3 linked regions of the Homo sapiens genome follow. The protein of the gene in region 1 purifies or fractionates together with the protein of each later gene. This does not show direct contact. Each region holds a gene or a part of one and is shown on either strand. Other genes may lie near its edges. The genes, in order: MOCS2, CRYBB1 and CCDC134.

The links.
Region 2: the proteins of MOCS2 (region 1) and CRYBB1 purify together in Homo sapiens (affinity purification with mass spectrometry; one large-scale study listed by BioGRID and IntAct). This does not show direct contact.
Region 3: the proteins of MOCS2 (region 1) and CCDC134 fractionate together in Homo sapiens (co-fractionation; one large-scale study listed by BioGRID). This does not show direct contact.

What each region holds. Positions count from the first base shown.
Region 1 is NC_000005.10:53,106,849-53,111,278, reverse strand, and holds the start of MOCS2 (molybdopterin synthase catalytic subunit large subunit MOCS2B), read left to right. Parts: upstream 1-1,521; 5' UTR 1,522-1,549; coding exon of another isoform or gene 1,550-1,567; 5' UTR 1,568-2,028; intron 2,029-2,635; coding exon of another isoform or gene 2,636-2,757; intron 2,758-4,057; coding exon of another isoform or gene 4,058-4,104; coding exon 4,105-4,202; intron 4,203-4,430. UniProt on the Homo sapiens protein: Catalytic subunit of the molybdopterin synthase complex, a complex that catalyzes the conversion of precursor Z into molybdopterin.
Region 2 is NC_000022.11:26,607,879-26,611,527, forward strand, and holds part of CRYBB1 (beta-crystallin B1), read right to left. Parts: intron 185-3,649; coding exon of another isoform or gene 182-184; exon of another isoform or gene 144-181; coding exon 11-143; exon of another isoform or gene 1-10. Other genes in the region: CRYBA4 (beta-crystallin A4), read left to right, coding at 182-184. UniProt on the Homo sapiens protein: Crystallins are the dominant structural components of the vertebrate eye lens.
Region 3 is NC_000022.11:41,814,052-41,817,700, forward strand, and holds part of CCDC134 (coiled-coil domain-containing protein 134 isoform 1 precursor), read left to right. Parts: intron 1-3,649. UniProt on the Homo sapiens protein: Molecular adapter required to prevent protein hyperglycosylation of HSP90B1: during translation, associates with nascent HSP90B1 and the STT3A catalytic component of the OST-A complex and tethers them to a specialized translocon that forms a microenvironment for HSP90B1 folding.

The sequences.
Region 1 (4,430 bases):
CTTTTGTTCTCAGCCTTTTTTACACACTGCACATTGCCATCAGATGCCACTGAGGAGTCTAAGGCCACTATTGTCATTCCCTTGTTTTTATGCCTGGGTGTGAATATAGTCTTTATCCTTTATGTTTAGCAACTTTACCAGGATACACATTGGTATTCATTGCTCCTTGTCAATTTTTCCTACCAAGGACTCTCCAGCCTCACTTCTCATCACCTCCTTTGCTGGAGGCACACCTGCCTTGCCAACTACTTGCCCTTCTGTGAACTTATTATGCTTCTTCATATCCCTGTGGCTTGTCAGAGGCAAGTGAAATTTCTTCGTGCTCTACTCCCACTCTTGTCATTTACTGCCACCATTCTAGCAGATTTACCTTCTCAGCATCTTCTCACTCCCCAGGTGACACAACCACTTTCCCCTTCCACCCTTGAAATGTAACACAGATCCTTAGTATTACAGGGAATTATCATTCATATTTAAAACTCTCCTACCCAGGACTGTGAGCTCCAAGGAAAGGGACGTGTAACTTACATCCACTTAACGACGCAAGCAATTTAAAGCCAAGAGTTCTTGTTGGCAAGAATTGGGAAAGTTGGACGGACAGTATACAATTACCGAGCAGCCAATAAACAGGAAAAGTCATACAGTTCGAATGTTCTGACCAGGCGGATATTCTGTCTTTAAGAAACACTAATCATATACCTGGGAAAGAAAAAAATCTTGGGCCCCTTCAAACTGGGAATTACTCAGGGCAAATCTGCCTCCTATTCTATCCAAGTCACCTCTTTTGCTGACAAAGAATAGATGCATATTCTGATTGCCTCCTTTAGAAAGACTTATCAGAAACTCAAAAGAATGCTACTGTCTATTACCTACCTGGAAGCCCCCAGTTGGGGGGGGCGGGGCTTGCTTTTAACGGTCTCCGCCTTTCTGGAAGGAACTAATGTACTTTTTACATATTGATTGATGTCTCCTGTCTCCCCAAAATGTATAAAACCAAGCTGTGCCCTGACCACCTTGGGCACATGTCCTCAGGACTTCCTGAGGCTGTGTCACGGGCATGTCCTCAACGTTGGCAAAATAAACTTTCTAAGTTAACTGAGACCTGTCTCAAATTTTCGAGGTTCACATACCGTAGGTAAAAGTGTCAGAAGCCTAAAGGTGAGCCAGTGGAAAAGCCTGAAGACCCCTGCAAGGTTATTAGCTAAGCCTCCATAACGCAGGCGGCAAGTGTCCAGGAGTCTGGCGTCTGCTCGCCTGCACCACGACCTCCCTCCTGGGGAGAAGGACATGCATGGTAAGCCATTTCTCCATTTCCATACTGATTGCTTCCTCTCACCACCACGGCCCATCTGCGAAGCAAAACTAATCCTGGCGTGGAACAGGCCGCCTGAGGGAAACAGCTAGAGCCCGGCGCGGGGCGGAGCTGGTTGTGCGCATGCTCCGTGCAGGCGCAGGCGGGGGCTGAGCGCCGTCGGGTTACGCCTGCGCTCCGGGTGAGCCCGCGCCTGCGCCTTTGCGGCCGTGATTCGGTCCCGCTGTCCTAGGCGGGATGGTGCCGCTGTGCCAGGTAAGGGTGGCGGGTGTGCGTGCGGGCCTGGGTGCGGAGCCCTCCTCGACGTGTCTCTCCCGCCCTTTCCCTCCACATACCCAGCCTTGGTCAGTCGGACCTCCCCACTAGCCCCCAACCTGGCCGGCGTCTTGGGTTCGGGGGCGCCCCCGCCCCCGCCCCCGGGCCCTTCCTGTCTCCGGGCTTTACTGCGACTGCCCCAGCAGAAGTCGGGTCCTCTCCGAGAACTCTTGTCAGCTCACGGCAGCAAGGACGGACTCGTTCTGAAGGCGCCTCCACCTTTTATGACCACCTCTTTCCCAGATTATTCGTTTTGATGAAGCTAAAATTTTAATCTAAAAAGAAATGCACCTCATGGAGAATTCTTGTGAAGAACTGTGCTTCATCTGTGGATTTCTACACCCTTGATCATTTGCAAACCTGTAATTATTTCGTAAAGAGTTGTTTGCACGGAGTGACAGGTGCCTATTTTACTTCGTCGGATCCCTTACATACCAGGCTGCTGGCACAAGTTTGTTCTAGCAAATTCCAGTCTGTCGTGTGTTTCAAACCTACTTGCTTCTGTAAATGTCAGATTTACTATGTTGCATAACTTAATCCTTAGCGTCTGGGGACGATGTTATACAGACCGGAATCTAAGGTCATTTGACAACCGTGAGAAACAGGTTTTTCGCTTATTTATTCATTTATTTTATTTGTGTAACTCATCTCTTGACTCAAACATTTGTTCTTTGCTTACATATTTATAAAAGGTGCTATACTTTTATGTCAATTAAGGCAGGCTTAACATGTTTTCCTAGAAGATAAATACTTAGGATTTTAATGATGGCACACTTAAGTTTGTAAAACTAAAAGGCATCCAGAAATTAGTCTGAATTGTATTTAAAACAACAAGTTTTCAGAATTTGAACTTGTAGGTATACTGAAATTTTTTACGGGTTATTTAATTTTCTTTATAAAATTTGTCTTTGATTAAAGCAATACATTTGGAAAATGAGAAAACTGCTCAACATTGACAGTCAGAAAACGAGTATGAGTTGTTATTAAAAGCATTTTCTTTACTTTCAGGTTGAAGTATTGTATTTTGCAAAAAGTGCTGAAATAACAGGAGTTCGTTCAGAGACCATTTCTGTGCCTCAAGAAATAAAAGCGTTGCAGCTGTGGAAGGAGATAGAAACTCGACATCCTGGGTAGTTAAAAATTTGTAGAATGCATATGAGTAACACTTAGATATTTTCAAAATACATAAATGATAAAAGTAAAAAGGTTAATTTCGATTTCCGTGCTTAATGTCAAAAAGAATCGTTAGTTGTATTTTTTTTGGAACACCTGAAAAACTCTAAATGTGCACCGTATTTTAAGAAAGGTTAAAGATATTTTACCCCAAAACACAGTGAACCGCAGAGGGACATGATTATATTCTCTTTGATAATTTACAAAACACTGCACATGTCACTTCTGCAATTTTATAACATTAAATGAAATTGTTACAAATTCTGTTAAAAATGTGTGCTTTAAACATTTTGTTCTGCCCCTCTCTTTAGAGAGCTCAACATAGAAATTTCTAAGATTGAAAGAAAAATGAGTTACAACAAATCCTAGATGCTGCTGAATTTGAGTTTTTGTAATATTTAATTTTTTTTCTGGTTCTTGAAAAACCTATAATTTTACTTATGTCATTCCCACTTCAAGTTCTTTTTGGAACAAAATATAAAAGTGACTTATTTGAGGGTGATTCAGGAATATTAATGGTGTTACTTAGCTTGTATAGGTGTTTAACCTGGAAGTCCTAGTTCTGTGTAAAAGATACTCCATAATAAGTGTTTAAAAGCAAACCACTTCATGATTTCGTATCTTTTAAGTTGCTCTTACAGTGGCCTGATAATCAATAAAACACAGTGGGGTCTCCCATTCTGCTTTACCTGGAGGGAGACAGCAGGTCTTGTATACGTTTTCACTGTGCCTGAAAAGAAAGCTTACCATTGTTCAGGTATAAAGGAACAGCTAATAAAGCTGTGTTGCAGGTGGCTTTATGACCTATGCTATCTTTTTCATCTTTCTAAGCAACTTAATCCATATTCGAGTAGGATAATGTGTACAGGCATAGTTTGTGGGCAGTTATACTTGTGCTTGAACACATGGATAGAAGGACCCTGGAAAGGCCATGTACTGATTGGAAACTTTTCTTTTGACCTGGTTTGAGTGTTGCCTCCAGTCTGGTGGGTTTTTTGTGCATTTTTTTGTTGTTTAATTCCCCAAGGCATACAACATCCAATAAAGAGTTGACAGCAGTTTAACGTATCTTTGTGGTGTATAAGTATGTTCTTCAGTGGATATGTCCTTTCTCCATATACTATGTGTAAATTTAATTGGTAATTTTGCAGGTGATGCTTTATATAATTATATCTATGTAATATCTCTAATTGCAGCTGAAGCGATTTGAGGTCTATCATAGCGTTGATACTTTGAGTCATATTTTTTCCCCTTTAGATTGGCTGATGTTAGAAATCAGATAATATTTGCTGTTCGTCAAGAATATGTCGAGCTTGGAGATCAGCTCCTCGTGCTTCAGCCTGGAGACGAAATTGCCGTTATCCCCCCCATTAGTGGAGGATAGTGCTTTTGAGCCATCTAGGTATGTGAGATTTGTTTTTCTTAATCAGTCGTGTGGGGAAGGATCATACAGATGATAAAGTGTATGTGGTTTGCTGTTAATGTATATTCTTTGTAAGTCTGTCTGTACCAAATCTTTATTGATGCAGCAACTCTTCATTGGTGCCAACAGATTTATGAATATCTAGCACCATTTCTGCATCAAGTCTATTGTAAGCAGTTTAATTACAATAAACATATCAGTTTGATA
Region 2 (3,649 bases), on another chromosome or scaffold:
AGCCACTCACCATTTTGATGGGCCGGAAGGACATGAGCCGATCACTGCGGTAGCTGCTCGACCATGTGTTCCAGCGAGGGTACTCGCCCTTCTCCAGGATGAACATCTCCCCGCGGAAGTTGGACTGCTCAAAGGCGACCCAGCTGGATACAAGAAGGACCATGAGGCAGACAGGAGACATATGGTTAGTAGAAGCCCCCACTCCCTACTTGCCTTTCTCTCTCCCCTGGCAAGGCAGCCCTGAGGACAGTAGGAAAGTCCAAAGGGGGCTGAACATGTCTGGGTTTGATTTTAGGCTCTGACACTTACAGGCTGTGTGACTATGGGCAAGTGACTTTACCTCTCTGAGCCTTTGTTTCTCATCTACACTCATATGCCTGTTTCCTTGGAGTTGGTGAAGGATTAAGTGAGATAAATGTGTGTGATTATCTGAGCACACTGTTTCTCTAGATGTAAGGTTCATACATGCTTCAAGTACTATCAGGACTTGGAGCCAAGGAACACATAGACATTTGAAACTTGACGCCAGCTAGGAGAAAGGCTCGTTTGATGTTAATGTGCCTTTAACACTTACTAATCTCTCCTTTTTTTCTTTTGTAACAAAGAGAGAAAAGACCACTAGCCCAGAACCTCCAGCAGACAATGGTGTAATAGCAACATAATAATACCACTTTTGTGTTTATTGTTAATTTTGTATGGATACCTTTTACTTATAGGAAATAATACTAGCCTTCCATTTGTAAAAAGTGGTGTCAGGGTTCTTTTAAAATGTGTTTATTTGTGGTTAGCAGGATCATTTTAAATGAAATATATTAAATGAACGACAGTCTCGGAGGTACAGGGGTAAGGGAAAAATTGATACAGGTGTTTGCATCCTTGCTGGGTAAATACTGGCCTGGTATTCGGGAGATACTCAGTAACTAGTATGAGGCAATGGGAAGGGAATGATGGTAATATCTACCCTCAGATACCTATGGTAATATAATGTGATAGCGCTTATGAAGATGCTAGGTTCCTTACATGGACTAATTAGAAGTTTGAAATTAGATGGAAGATTTTCCTGGCTTTCCCAGTGAAGATTGATTAAGGACAAGAAGTGAGCTTGTGTTACAGGGACCAGGGATTGTGGCAGTGCAGGTGGGGTAGATAAGACAATCCCCATTCCGTAGATGAGAAAGCTGAGACTAAGGAACTCCTTGACCTTTGCTCCCCGTGTGTTCAAGAGTTCTTAGGAAAAAAGAGACGGATGAGGGGACACTGACACTAGCATCTTCTCCCAGGGGGCTGCTGGGACCCTGCTCTCCCCAGAAGGAGACAAGGATGATGGGCTATCACCATGGGCTGAGACAGAATGCATCACAGGAGCCTCAGGTCTTTGTCTGAGAGATGAGTTAACCACACTGGAGTAAATTAAAGATATGTTTGTCTTCCCAGAATAGAGTTGCATTTGCCTCAGCCCTGTCTGGTCTGGAGTAGAAGAGAAATAAATGGGAGAATAGATGGATGGATGGACAGATGAATGGGTGGATGGATGGGTGGATGAAAGGATGGTTGAATAGATGGATAGGTGGATGGGTAGATGGACAGATGAATGGATGCATGGATAAAGGGATGGATGAAGGGATGGTTGAATTGATGGATAGCTAGATGGGTAGATGGATGGGTGGGTAGATGGATAGATTTATAGATGGATGGGTGGGTGATGGAGAACACATGGTGGGTACGTGTGTATAAATGGAGAATGGATGTATGTATGGATAGATCAATAGACGAATGGGTAGATGCATGGGTAAGTAGATGGATGATGAATAAATGGGTGGATAGACGCATGGGTGAATAAGAAGGGAGCCTTGGAAGGTGGTTTCATGTAGGAGTTAAGAGGACAGACCCTGGAAACAGACAGACCTGAATTCTAATCCAAGCTTTGCCATTTGCTGCATGCATTTGGGCAGCACTTACACCTGCTAAGCTTTAGTAACAGAGAAGAAATGATACATCTACTTTGTTGCATCTACCTTGTTGGGAGATTATGAGGGCCTAAAAGAGGGAATGCATGGAACAGATACAGCACAGAGTAAGCCTCCAAATTAATACTGTTCCTGATTAAAGGGAGAAGGAAACTGGAGGTCTAGGCTTCTGGAAAAACAGACACTGATGTGGTCTTGCCACCATGCCCAAGTCCCCCTAAAATCTCCCCTATCTTCTTCAGCAGGACCAGTGAGGATCTAAATTTTAAATGTTTATATCTATGCCTTTTCTTATCTCCCATGGCTCATTTCAACCCGCAAGCAGGGAGAGAGGGTAGGGCAGGAATTTTAATTTATAAGATATGGAAACTGAGGCTAAGAGGGGTTAAGTCCCCAGCCTAAGGTCACATGATGGTGTTGGGTGTCAGGCTGCAGTCTCCTGGGTTTCAGGCAGGCAGGCCTCCTCACTTTCCCCATGCCTACCTCACCCTCTTCATTCTTTTTTTCCCATGGCCCTGCCAGCGCCCACACAGACCCAGGCCCCCGGACCACAGGCCCGTTTCCATGCCCATCAGGCACGGCTCCAAGGCACACGTCAGACACCAGCTGCATCTTTGTTTGAGGAGAAATACTCTGGGTTTGAGTCACTGGTACCAAAAAAAGCCTGAAAACCCATGCTGGCCACATCCGGTAGCTTCTGCTTCCAGCTGGGTTTTGGGGCTGAGGGTGGAGCTGAGGCTGCGTTGACCACACTGAGGGTGCAGGAGGTAGAAATGGTCCCGGGTAGCCTCCAGGATAAGTTGGCTAAATTCACCGGGCAGGGAGGTGGGTACGTGACCATCAGAGTCACCTGCCATGTTTGGGTGCCCACAAGGTAACAGGCCCATGCTGTATGATCTCCCTCAGACCTCAGCATAATCCTGTGAGGAGTGGTGAGGGCCATCCTTCTCCCCATTTCAAAGATGGGGAAACTGAGGCTTGCACACTGAACAAGGCAAACAGGGGAAGTCAGGACTCAAACCCAGGCTTGTCTGACCTCAAAGCTCATCTCGGAATGGGCTCAGAATACAGGATGACTGGAACCCTTGCAGGCTTTCAAAGTGGGGGAGACAAGAGCAAACGAGCTGCGTGGATCTTGTCCTGGGGCTGCCCCTCCACCCTGACCTCAGCACACACAGGCTGGACATAGGGCAACCACTCTGCCCAAGGATGACTATCCCTGTTTTATATGGGAGTCACTAAGGCCCAGAGACACCCACAGAGACAGGAACAGGCAGTGAAGCATGGTGATTAAGAGCTTTAGGAATGAACTCAATCAACCTGAGTTGAATCCTGGCTGTGCCACTTACCAATAGGTGACCTTGGGTAAGAGACTCACCCCCTCTGAGCCTCAGTCTTTCCATCTGTCAAGTGGGCATAAGAATAGCCTCTGCCTCCTACAGCACTGTGAATCATCTAGGTGTGGTCCCGAGTCAGTGCCTGGCACCTGGTGGGTGTGCCACAGATGCTTATCATTACTCCCAGGCAGCTGGACGCCCAGGAGAGGGGACAGCGAGTGGACACTTCACTCTTTGACCTCTCTCAGCCCTCGGTAATGGGCTAGAGTTTGTTTTTTTTTTTTTTGTTTTTTTTTTTTTTTTGAGACGGAGTCTCGCTCTGTCGCCCAGGCCGGACTGCAGACT
Region 3 (3,649 bases), on another chromosome or scaffold:
GTAGTTAGGAGGCTATGAACAAACCCATCCCAGCACAAAATAGGCATCCCACTTCAGGTGGATATCAGGGTAGCTAGGGAGATCAGGCCATGCTCTTCCCTGCCTTTGAACCTCTGAGCACCAACTGGGCTTCCATCCCGCACTCCTGTACATGCTCTCATTCCAGGGGTTCCAGGGGGCTGAGGTGGGCTTTGAGAGCTGGAGACCAAGTTTGGGATAAAAGATGAGGACAGGCCGGGCACGGTGGCTCACATCTGTAATTCCAGCACTTTGGGAGGCCGAGGCGGGTGGATCACCTGAGGTCAGGAGTTCGAGACTAGCCTGGCCAATATGGTGAAACTCTGTCTTTACTAAAAATACAAAAAACTGGCCAGGCGTGGTGGTGCATGCCTGTAATCCTAGCTATTCAGGAGACTGAGGCAGGAGAATCGCTTGAACCCGGAAAGTGGAGGTTGCAGTGAGCTGAGATCGTGCCATTGCACTCCAGCCTGGGCAACATGAGTGAAACTCCGTATCAAAAAAAAAAAAGGGGGGACAGATACGATAGATGGAGGAAGGGATTGGAAGTGACAGGGCTAGGAGGGGCAGGAAGGAAGGGCTGTGGTGGCTGGAGGACTGGACTTGTCAAACCCTGGTGTCGGGAGGGGTGTTGGGTGTCTCAAGGGTCTAGGATTTAATTCTGCCTCCAGGCCAACAAGCTAGCCTGCTACTGTTTCATGGACACTGATAGGTCAGAGACATTGGACTGTATTACAGCAAAGGCACTAGCTAGACTGTTGGCCTGGTTGTGTTGGTTCATCTTGTTCCCTAACTCCCACGGAGGTGACACAGAGGGGCCAGGTGGGCGCTGTGCATGCAGGGGGTGTGCATCATAGCTGAGAACTGCCAAGCTGGAGAAATTCATGATTTTTATAGTGAACCGCAGCAAATGTGCTCTTTGGGAAGAGACATCACCACACCGTTCGAGGTTGCTCTCTGCAAACACAATCCTAAGACATGGCCCAGGTAAAGAGTGGTTAGGGCTTTGTATCTTTGGTGTGCCCTGCAAGAATATGCAGGGATGCTCAGGGCCATGATGGATTGCCACCCCAACAGTCTGCCCCAAGCCCAAGCCCTCCATGGCTTGGTTTAACTCAAATTTTCTTTTCTTTTCTTTTTTTTTTTTTTTTTTTGAGATGTAGTCTCGTTCTGTCGCCCAGGCTGGAGTACAGTGGCGCGATCTCGGCTCACTGCAAGTTCTGCCTCCTGGGTTCACGCCATTCTCCTGCCTCAGCCTCCCCAGTAGCTGGGACTACAGGCGCCCGCCACCACACCTGGCTAATTTTTTGTATTTTTAGTAGAGACGGGGTTTCACCATGTTAGCCAGGATGGTCTTGATCTCCTGACCGCGTGATCCACCCGCCTCGGCCTCCCAAAGTGCTTGGATTACAAGCGTGAGCCACCGCACCCGGCCTAACTCAAATTTTCACACGAATGTGCTATTCAGTCTGATTGATCTGACTGATAGAGGCTAGGACCAAATCTGTCAATTAGTCTCATACTTCATTTAATTAAGATTACTATCAACTATATTCTGAATAGCAGGGTAAGGCCAACCTACATTATTATTATTTTTTTTATAGACAGGGTCTTGCTCTGTCACCCAAGCTCTGTCACCCACCTAGCTTACTGTAACCTTGAACTCCTGGGCTCAAACAGACCTCCCACCTCAGCCTCCTGAGTAGCTGGGACGACAGGCCTGTGCGACACCATTCCTGGCTAATTAATTTATTATTTTTTTCAGAGACAGGTTCTTGCTGTGCTGCCTAGGGTGATCTCAAACTCCTGGGCTCAAGCCATCTTCCTGTCTCAGCCTCCCAAAGTGTTGGGATTATAGGTGTGAGTCACTGTGTCTGGCCCCTAACCTGCAATATTGAACAGGGTCCTGGACTCAACCAGCTGTGAAGGTCCTGGAGGACCAGTAAGTCTCATTTTGGATAATCAGGATATTGTCTAAGACCAATCTGTTATCCACGACCACCCACATAAGAGAGTTTAGATTGACCTGCCAATCTTTGATGTTACTGCCAATAAGTACAGGGGGCAATAGATGGACCCAAGCAACCCTCATGCCCCCATAAGGAGACATTCCATGACCCATTCTCTCCCACATGTTACGCTTGATTTGAGTCACCAGAACAATGTTTAGTTGAGCCTGAGGGCAGTGTCACTGTGGAGCTTCAGCCTCAGTTGCCTACATGGTATAATCCAAGGCTACTCAGACATCAGGAAAAGCAGATGAATTTGTATCTGTCAGGTTGAAACAAAATTGTGCTGGCTGGTGTGTCTGCACAAGGTCACTGTTGAGAACTACCTTTGATGGCATTAGACACAGCAGAATAGCTCAGTACTGACGTGTCCATGTGAGTTTTCCTATCATGTGGATGGAAATGAGACACCCAACAGTTGGCCATATTGACAGCTGCAGCTGCCACTGGGCTTGGGCAGACCCTAGGATTGTTTTGCCAGGTGGCAGTGATGGATCTAAGGGATAAAGAGAACATTAATTGTTCCCTGCACTTTCTGGGATCTAAGGTATATCCTCCCCAGGTGGCAGGATTATTGCTATAAAATCCATGTGTCCTTGGGAGACCGAGGTGGGCGGATCATGAGGTCAGGAAAATCAAGACTATCCTGGCCAACATGGTGAAACCCCGTCTCTACTAAAAATACAAAAATTATCCGGGTGTGGTGGCGCATGCCTGGAGTCCTGGCTACTCAGGAGGCTGAGGCAGGAGAATTGCTTGAACCCAGGAGGCGGAGACTGCAGTGAGCCAAGATCGCACCACTGCACTCCAGCCTGGCGACTGAGTGAGACTGTCTCACAAAAACAAAACAAAACAAAAAGCATATGTCCTATGCCAGCATCTATAGTTTCACTTTTTCTCCAGTTGTTGCCTACTATCACTTAGATCTTTCATTCAGAAATGTCAGGTATGAATGGGACCAGGGCATTTTTACAGATGTATAGAGACCTGTTATATCTCTTCTCTTTACCCACATGGGCCACTGCAGGGAAATCAGCAAGCAGGATACTCAGCCAAGTGGTCACAATCCTAACAATCTCAGGCTGTACCATTCCAACCAGAGACTCAGGTAGTTGAACCAGAAATATACAGTCCTCTGTTTTGTGCCACTCCTTGGTAGTGGGTATGTTACCATGCCAAGTAGAATGATATGTTTAGGTGGCAGTGGCAGTGATCTGGATGAAGTAGGCTTGATCAGCAGTTTGACTCCATTTGGTCTTTTCAGAGATTGAGCTTTATGATGGGCATCTAAACGAGTGAGCCAGGCTGTCTAGTTTGTCACCACAATTTGTTTCCATAGTCTGTGGCCCTAAAGAGGGGTGAGGGGTAGGTATCGCCAGGCATGGTGGCTCACACCTGTAATCCCAGCACTTAGGGACCGAGGCAGGCGGATTGCCTGAGGTCAGAAATTTGAGACCATCCTGGCCAACATGGTGAAACCCTGTCTCTACTAAAAATACAAAAATTAGCCGGGCGAGGTGACGCATGCCTGTAGTCCCAGCTACTCGGGAGGCTGAGGCAGGAGAATCGCTTGAACCCGGGAGGCAGAGGTTGCAGTGAGGTGAGATTGCACCACTGCACTC